Linked DNA regions of Homo sapiens: regions 2 and 3 are each linked to region 1. The links come from fine-mapping of genetic effects on gene expression. A gene starts in region 1. Each other region holds a variant in brackets. All regions are shown on one strand. Distances are between the middles of the regions.

The links. PIP is the estimated chance that this variant, and not a neighbour inherited with it, causes the effect.
Region 2: its variant is fine-mapped to the expression of NLRP1 in sigmoid colon (GTEx, PIP 0.96).
Region 3: its variant is fine-mapped to the expression of NLRP1 in whole blood (TOPMed, PIP 0.99).

The regions. Positions count from the first base shown.
Region 1 is chr17:5,582,810-5,585,567 of GRCh38, reverse strand. NLRP1 (NLR family pyrin domain containing 1) reads left to right here and starts at 1,059. Exons shown (of 17, transcript NM_033004.4): 1 at 1,059-1,881; 2 at 2,722-2,758. The coding sequence starts at 1,611. RefSeq lists enhancers at 671-970, 991-1,250, 522-1,721.
Region 2 is chr17:5,510,116-5,512,873 of GRCh38, reverse strand. It overlaps LOC101928044 (zinc finger CCHC domain-containing protein 9-like), which reads left to right and starts at 148. Exons shown (of 1, transcript XM_047437231.1): 1 at 148-922. The coding sequence starts at 247. The coding sequence ends at 834. It also overlaps a transcript of NLRP1 not described here. The variant G/C (reference allele first, on the strand shown) is at 1,381.
Region 3 is chr17:5,530,977-5,533,734 of GRCh38, reverse strand. NLRP1 (NLR family pyrin domain containing 1) reads left to right here. Exons shown (of 17, transcript NM_033004.4): 10 at 351-431; 11 at 751-913. LOC124903902 (a long non-coding RNA gene) reads right to left here. Exons shown (of 4, transcript XR_007065590.1): 2 at 35-156. Among named protein-coding and RNA genes, the nearest start is that of MIS12, 46 kb to the right of the region's middle. The variant C/A (reference allele first, on the strand shown) is at 1,573.

The DNA.
Region 1 (2,758 bases):
ATCAGACTGGCTAACATGGTGAAACCCCATCTCTACTAAAAATACAAAACAATTAGCCAGGCGTGGTGGTGAGTGACTGTAATCCCAACTGCCCAGGAAGCTGGGCTGATGCAGGAGAATCGCTGGAACCCAGGAGGTGGAGGGAGCTTGCAGTGAGCCGAGATCTTGCCACTGCACTCCAGCCTGGGAAAGAGAGAGAGACTCTAAGACCTTTTGCTGAATTGAAGCCTCTTGGTAAACCTATGATGTCCCATTTAATAGATGGGCAAACTGAGGCTCAAAGAAATAAATCAGGCACATAAGGAGTCCTTGTCCAAGCAAGCCGTGGGTTGAAGCCTGGGCTCTGCCAGTCCAAGTGAAACCAAAGCATCTCCAGAAATTCCTGGTGGTGTGTTACATCAGCAAATGAGTAGGCAATGTCATTCCTCAACCTGAAGTCATTGGCATCTTGCAGATTCCACGAAAGAGGAAGTCTGCCCCTGGCTCCCCGAGGCCTGCTTGCAGGAATGAGGAAGGGGCTGTTCTGCTTTCAGGTGGAAATGTTCACCAGCTAAGTGCTGGGCTGCCCAGAAGGCAAACAGCCCCCTGGGCCTGGGACACATGCTTTAGTGCCCCTGGTAGCATGGCAGGACATGCAGTGCAACTCAAGAAGCTCCCAAAACCATGAGAGGCTGGGAAAAATGCTCCCTGGCCCAGTTCTAATGTTTCCCAATAAGGAGCTGCCCGGGCAGACACAGGGGGCCCCACCCATCCTGAGAGGCTGGGCCTGGGCTGCAGACACAACTGCTCGGAGAGTCTGCATCCTGGCTCTGCAGACAGGCTCTAGATGATGGGCTGGCGGAGTGCCCATGTGGAGGTGCACACACCGTGTTTAGTATGGGCCTGTACCTGCTGCAGCGTCAGCTGGTCTGGGCCTGTGCTCCTGGTCCGCCTATAGATGCCATGTGGCCCATCTGAATCTGTGACTCTGAGTCTGGCCTACCCAGGCCTGGTTTGATCCTACCCCCTGGCCACGCCCCTTGTGGGTTTCCTCTGGGTGACGTTTCCTTCCTGCTCTTGTTGACTAGGCGCTGTTCTTGCTGGCTGGTGCCCCAGGGCCTGGAGAGGTCTGAAGAAACCTGGGAGCCAGCAGCCCGGGGCTCCACTCTGGGTTCTGAAAGCCCATTCCCTGCTCTGCGGCTCCTCCCACCCCACCTCTTCTCAGCCTTGCAGCTCAAGGGTTGATCTCAGGAGTCCAGGACCCAGGAGAGGGAAGAATCTGAGGAACACAGAACAGTGAGCGTTGCCCACACCCCATCTCCCGTCACCACATCTCCCCTCACCCTCACCCTCCCTGCCTGGCCCTGGACCCCATCCCAGGACCTCCCTATCAGCTGACTTCTTCCAGTGTCTTGCAGGCCCCTCTGGGCTCCTCCCTCCCCTGGCTTTTCCTACCACTCCCCCTCTATCGGCGTCTATCTGTAGGTGCCCTGGGATTTATAAAACTGGGTTCCGAATGCTGAATAAGAGACGGTAAGAGCCAAGGCAAAGGACAGCACTGTTCTCTGCCTGCCTGATACCCTCACCACCTGGGAACATCCCCCAGACACCCTCTTAACTCCGGGACAGAGATGGCTGGCGGAGCCTGGGGCCGCCTGGCCTGTTACTTGGAGTTCCTGAAGAAGGAGGAGCTGAAGGAGTTCCAGCTTCTGCTCGCCAATAAAGCGCACTCCAGGAGCTCTTCGGGTGAGACACCCGCTCAGCCAGAGAAGACGAGTGGCATGGAGGTGGCCTCGTACCTGGTGGCTCAGTATGGGGAGCAGCGGGCCTGGGACCTAGCCCTCCATACCTGGGAGCAGATGGGGCTGAGGTCACTGTGCGCCCAAGCCCAGGAAGGGGCAGGTGAGTGGACAGAGGACCCCACTGCCCGCGGGACATCCCCTGGCCCTCATGCCTGCCCTGCCCTCTTGGGACCCCACCACTGAGCCCTCCCTGCCAGGCCTTCCTCTGAGCAGTGACATGGAACTGCCCTCTCAAAGGGGGATCCAGGCCCCAGACTATGCTGGAGCCAGGAGGCTTGCTGGGGGGGCCCTTGCTGCACCTCAGAGCCCCACACCCTCTTCTATTCAAGTGCATTCCCGGTACTCGCCTGGCATTGTAGTTATGAGCACGGACTTGGGAGTCAGGCACTATCACCAGTCCTGGCACTATCACCCTGGGCCAATCACTTCACTGCTCTCTGCCTATTTCTCTGTCTGCAAAATGGGAGAGTGAGAGCCCGCCTCCCTGGGCTGTGTGAGGGTTAAAAGAGATCATCCAGGTTAAACATTTAGCACAGAGTCTGATATACAGTAAGTGCTCAATAAATAAGATCTCCCATTGCTGTTGTTGCTGCTGCTGCTGCTGCTGTTATTATTACTATTAGCCACCCTGGGTTGCAGATGCCGTTGGCCCAATAAAGCACAGCTGAGGCTCAGTAGGAGTAGTGATTTACACAGGGAGATAGTCAGGACCAAGACAGATATGCAAATTTCCTGATCCTAGATGAGGATTTTTTGCCTAGCAGTATCTATAAGAACATCATTCTTCAGACAAGCCTCTAGAGGAAGTTGTAGAGGGCTGCAGCGGGTTCACTGGTGTATCCTGACCTCTCTTGGTTGAGAGAGGAGACCAGCTCAGTTCCCTGGCACCTTGCCCCTGCCCCTCTGATGTGTCTCCAACCTCTTTGTCTCTTTCCTGTAGGCCACTCTCCCTCATTCCCCTACAGCCCAAGTGAACC
Region 2 (2,758 bases), 73 kb after region 1:
CAAAGCCCACCAAAGCCAAGATGGCAATGAAAGGGACTCCTGGTTGTCCTCACTGCTCATTATATGCTAATTTTCACCCTCCTGTAGGACCAGCTCCAGCAGTTGTGGGACCCAGTGCAAAATGGAAACACAGGGCCCCTCGTTCAAAAATGATAAGAATGTCAAGACGGTGACAACAGAACATGAAATCAAGCGCCAGGCCCTGCTGAGCTCAGGGCTCTGTGTGACCGCACAGGTCACACACCCATGAGACTGGCCTTGTCTTTCGGGTCCTTCACGCCCCACCCACCCATCTCCTTTACCACATGCAGACCTCCACTCTCCACACAACCCTTCCTCCAAGAGGACAGTCAATGGGAAGTAAGAAGATTTAAAAGACAAGGGGCAAAGAAAAATGCAATGGTGTGTTTCCATTGTAGAAAACCTGGTCGTGGAATTGCGGATTGCCCTGCCGCCCTTGAAAATCAAGATATGGGCACTAGAAGATGTTACAAGTGTGGGTCCACAGATCACGAAATAACCAAGTGTAAGGCTAAAGTAGACCCGCCTCTTGGCGAATGTCCTTTTGCAGAATGTTTTGTCTGTGGAGAAATGGGGCACCTGTCTAGATCTTGTCCTGATAATCCCAAAGGACTCTATGCTGATGGTAGTGGTTGCCAACTTCATGGCTCTGTGGAACATTTAAAGAAAGATTGCCCTGAAAGTGAGAATTCAGATCGAATGGCCACAGTTGGTCTGTGGGCAAAGGGAATAAGTGCAGACTATGAAGACATTGTGGATGCACCAAAACCACAAAAACCCAAAACAAAAATACCTAAAGGTGTTAATTTTTGATAACAACTAGTACTGTCATTAGTTACCACCTCATTGTTACTTTCTAAACCAGGCCCACTTCACAAGTTACAGCTGGGCTCCCTTGTAGCCAGGACTATACTGTAAATATCAGTATGATCTGGGTGTGGTCAAAAACAATTTTCAACAGAGAGAAAGAAGAAAGAAGAGAGAGAAAGAAAAAGGAAGAGAAAGAGGAAGAGGAAGGAATGAAGAAAAAGAGGAAGGAAGGAAGGAAAGAGAGAAAGGAAAGAGAAAGAAAGAAGAAAGAGAAAGAGAAAGAAAAAGAAAAGAGAAAGGGAGGGAGGGAAAGAAGGAAGGACCTACGCGAGGAGGGGCTCCGCCAACCCTCTAAGCCCCGCAACCCCCGCATGCCCCGCCTCCTTCTGCAGACCTCCCCGTCCCTCATCCCAGCAAGTCCTCACGTTAGTTGCCGGAAGCCTAGGAAATGTATTCCTAAATCTGGAGTCGTCTCCATGGCAGCGAGCCCCGAAGTGGAGCCAGTCTTGGAGTAGGAGAAAGGCCAGACACAAACAAGTGTGTGGGGAT[G/C]GGGGAGACACACATGCATGTCCGCTTTGGATCCAGATTCTCTTTTTTTTTTTTAGACGGAGGCTCGCTCTGTCGCCCAGGCTGGAGTGCAGTGGCGCAATCTCAGCTCACTGCACTCACTGCAACCTCCACCTCCCGGGTTCAAACGATTCTCCTGCCTCAGCCTCCCGAGTAGCTGGGATTACAGGCGCCCACCACCACACCCGGATAAATTTTTGTATTTTTAGTAGAGACGGGGTTTCACCATGTTGGCCAGGCTGGTCTCGAACTCCTGGCATCAAGTGATCCGCCCGCCTCGGCCTCCTAAAGTGCTGGGATTACAAGTGTGAGCCACCGTGCCCGGCCTGGATCTGGATTCTAATAGCAACAGCTAGAATTCTGAGGGACAGGCAGTGAGCTGGGAATCAAATTCTTGGCTCTACCACCCATTAGATGTGTGATCTTGAAACAGGTTTTCAGATGTGTAAGAAGGGAATAGCAAAGCTTGCGTCAAACGGTTGTTTGACTAGGTGAGCTCATGAGTGGGAAGTTGTTCTGGGCGAGCTGGTACACAACACTAGGCAGACAGTAAATCTTAGCTTCTTTGAGCCTGAGGCTGTTGTAGGTGCCAGTGATAACAGAGGCCAGAGTATCTATTCTCAAGCAATTTATATTCTAGTGGCAAGGAGATACGAAATACGCACCCATGTCTGTAATCCCAGCACTTTGAGAGGCGAAGGCCTGAAGATCTATTGAGACCAGGAGTTTGAGACCAGGAGTTCAAGACCAGCCTGGGCAACATAGCAAGACCCCGTCTCTTAAAAAAAAAAATTTTTTTTCATTTTTTTGGCCAGATGCAGTGGCTCATGCCTGTAATCCTAGCACTTTGGGATGTCAAGGCGGACGGATCACCTGAGGTTAAGAGTTTAAGAGTTCAAGACCAGCCTGGCCAACATGGTGAAACTCTGTCTCTACAAAAATACAAAAATTAGCTGGGCATGATGGCAGGTGCCTGTAACCCCAGCTACTCGGGAGGCTGAGGCAGCAGAATTGCTTGTACGTGGGAGGCACAGGTTGCAGTGAGCCGAGATCACGCCATTGCCCTCCAGCCTGGGCAACAGAGCGAGCCTCTATCTCAAAAAAAAAAACCAGTTTTTTTAATTAGCCGGGCATCGTGGTACATGCCTGTATTCCCAGATACTCTGGAGGCTGAGGCAGAAGGGTCCCTTGAGCCTAGGCTCCAGTGAGCCATAATCATGCCACTGCACTCCAGCCCTGGAGACAGAGCAAGATCCTGTCTCTAAATAAAAATAATTGGCTGGGTGCTTACCTATAATCCTAGCACTTTGGGAGGCTGAGGCCAATGAATTGCTTGAGTCCAGGAGTTTGAGACCAGCCT
Region 3 (2,758 bases), 52 kb after region 1:
GCTGGATTTCCGTTACCCTCTCTCCGAGACCCACCGGCTGGTGCTTCCCCTCTCCAGAACGTCTATGGCATGTATCAAACCCTGAACCGGGGTCCGGCCTCTTCCATTCTTGGCTGCTAAGGCCTGGGAATCACATCTCCATCTTTGCCCTGCCATCTAAAAAAAAAAAAAAAAAAAAAAAAACAGAGTCTCACTCTAGTGTTCAGGCTGGAGTGCAGTGGCATGTTCATGGCTCACTGCAGCCTAAACCTTCTGAGCTCAAACAATCCTCCCACCTCCGCCTCCTGAGTAGAACTGGGACTGCAGATGCTCACCACCATGCCTGGCTGATATTTTTCTTTTTTCTGTAGAGAGGGCGGCTTCCCATGTTGCTCAGGCTAATCTCAAACTCCTGGACGTGAGCAAGATCTTCCCAATTGCTGAGATTGCAGGCAAGAGCCACGGTGCCTGGCCCCTTTCATCTTTTGAACCATGTTCTCTCTCAACCTGCCCACCTGGGCATGCTGGGGAGAGTGGCACTTCTATTCCAGTGGGGAAGGGGAGATGGGCGGAGGCTGGGCTGGAGGCACTGGAGTGGGGCTCCCCAGACAGCAGGCAGGCAGCCATGGAGCAGGAGCAGAAGCTGCAGACACACTCCCTGCCATGGTCCAGGCAGGCCAGCCTTGGGAAGGGCCCCTTACAGTGCAGCCATAGGGGCTAGGGGAGGCCAGGCGGGAGAATCTGGAGCTGACCGCTGCCTTGCTGTTTCAGAGGAAAGCTCCCCAGAGGTAGTACCGGTGGAACTCTTGTGCGTGCCTTCTCCTGCCTCTCAAGGGGACCTGCATACGAAGCCTTTGGGGACTGACGATGACTTCTGGGGCCCCACGGGGCCTGTGGCTACTGAGGTAGTTGACAAAGAAAAGAACTTGTACCGGTGAGTGAGGGGGCTCTGCTGGTCCCAGGCTGGCCTCCCGCACCCCACTGCCCATCCTGGGTCCCCACAGACAGTCAGCGCCACCCCCTACCCCCAACTCACACTCACCACTGGGTCCCCTCCTCTTGCCAAGACAACAGGCAGAGACAGGGCTGAGACACTGGGTGTCTGCTTTTCATATGGAAAAAGATGTTTTCTTATGAAACTTAAAATTTTCAAACATATACAAAAATAGTACAAGGAGCTTCCATGTACCCATCACCCAGCTTCAGCCACTGTTTTGCCAAATTCGTTTCAGCTGTTCACTTTCCCCCTCTTTGTTATTGTTACAGTATTTTAAATCCAAGACATCGGGTGATTTTACCCTTAAATATTTCATTACGCATCTCAAAAAACAAAAATAAAAACCTTTTCTTCCATAACATAACTACAATGCCAATATCACATCTGACAAAGCTGGCAGTAAGTCTTTCATTTCATCTACTCCCCAATCCATATTCAAATTGCTCAATTGTCTAAAACATGTTCTTATAGTTGGTGTTGTGGTTTGGTTGGGTTTGGTTTGATTTGGTTTTGAGACAGAGTCTTGCTCTGTCACTCAGGCTGGAGTGCAATGGCACAATCTTGGCTTACCTCAACCTCCACCTCCCAGGTTCAAG[C/A]GATTCTCCAGCCTCAGCCTCTCTAGTAGCTGGGACTACAGTCACATGCCACCACGTGTGAAAAATGAAAATTGTATTTTTAGTAGAGATGGGGGTTTCACCATATTGGACAGGCTGGTCTCGAACTCCTGACCTCAGACGATCCACCTTCCTCAGCCTCCCAAAGTGCTGGGATTACAGGCGTGAGCCACCGCGCCTGGCCAGTTGGTGTGTTCTTATCAGGATCCAAACAAGGTCCACTCATTTTATTTTCTTTGTTATATTTCTTAAATCTCACTTAACTCTCTTAATCTGTATGCTCCTGTTTTATTAACAGCCACTAATGAGCTAAGGACTGTACTAGTAGCTGGGGACCCTAAGATGAATATGGCAGCCCTGCCCTCCCAGGGCTTACAGTCGCACTAGTAGTAATTCTCTATAGTCATACTCATGATCTCTTATATAACATGTTACCACTCACCAAACACTGCCACAGACATCATCTCAACCAGGAGACAGCGTCACTCCCAGCTCACACCTACAGAAGCTGGGGCATCCCGGGACCCACTATTAACCCACCTGAGGAGCCTTGGGAAAATCACTTCTGATCTCTATAAAAGTGTTGTTTCCAATTCTAAGGGTTTAGCATTAATATTAGCACATACGGCCAGGCATAGTGGCTCATGCCTATAATCCCAGCACTTTAAGAGACCGAGGCAGGAGGATCACTTGAGTCCAGGAGTTCAAGGCCAGCCTGGACAACATGGCAAAACCTTGTGTCTACAAAAATTACCAAAAAAATTAGCTGGACGTGGTGACATGTACCTGTAGTCCTAGCTACTCAGGGAGCTGAGGTGGAAGAATTGCCTAAGCCAGGGATTTCGAGGCTGCAGTGAACCAAGATCGGGCCACTGCGCTCCAGCCTGGGCAACAGAGTGAGACCATATTTCCATAGATTAGATAGATAGATAGATAGATAGATAGATAGATAGATAGATAGATAGATAGATTAGATAGATTAGATAGATAGATAGATAGACAGACAAGACAAGACAGATAATCTTAGCACATATATTGTTATTAATTATTGCTAAATAGGCCCCTTACATATACGAACACTTGTTATTTCATCATTACCATCATTGCCATCATCAACATAGTAGAAACAGTTCACAGCTCCCAGGCGTGTACTAAGCTGTGAGCATGC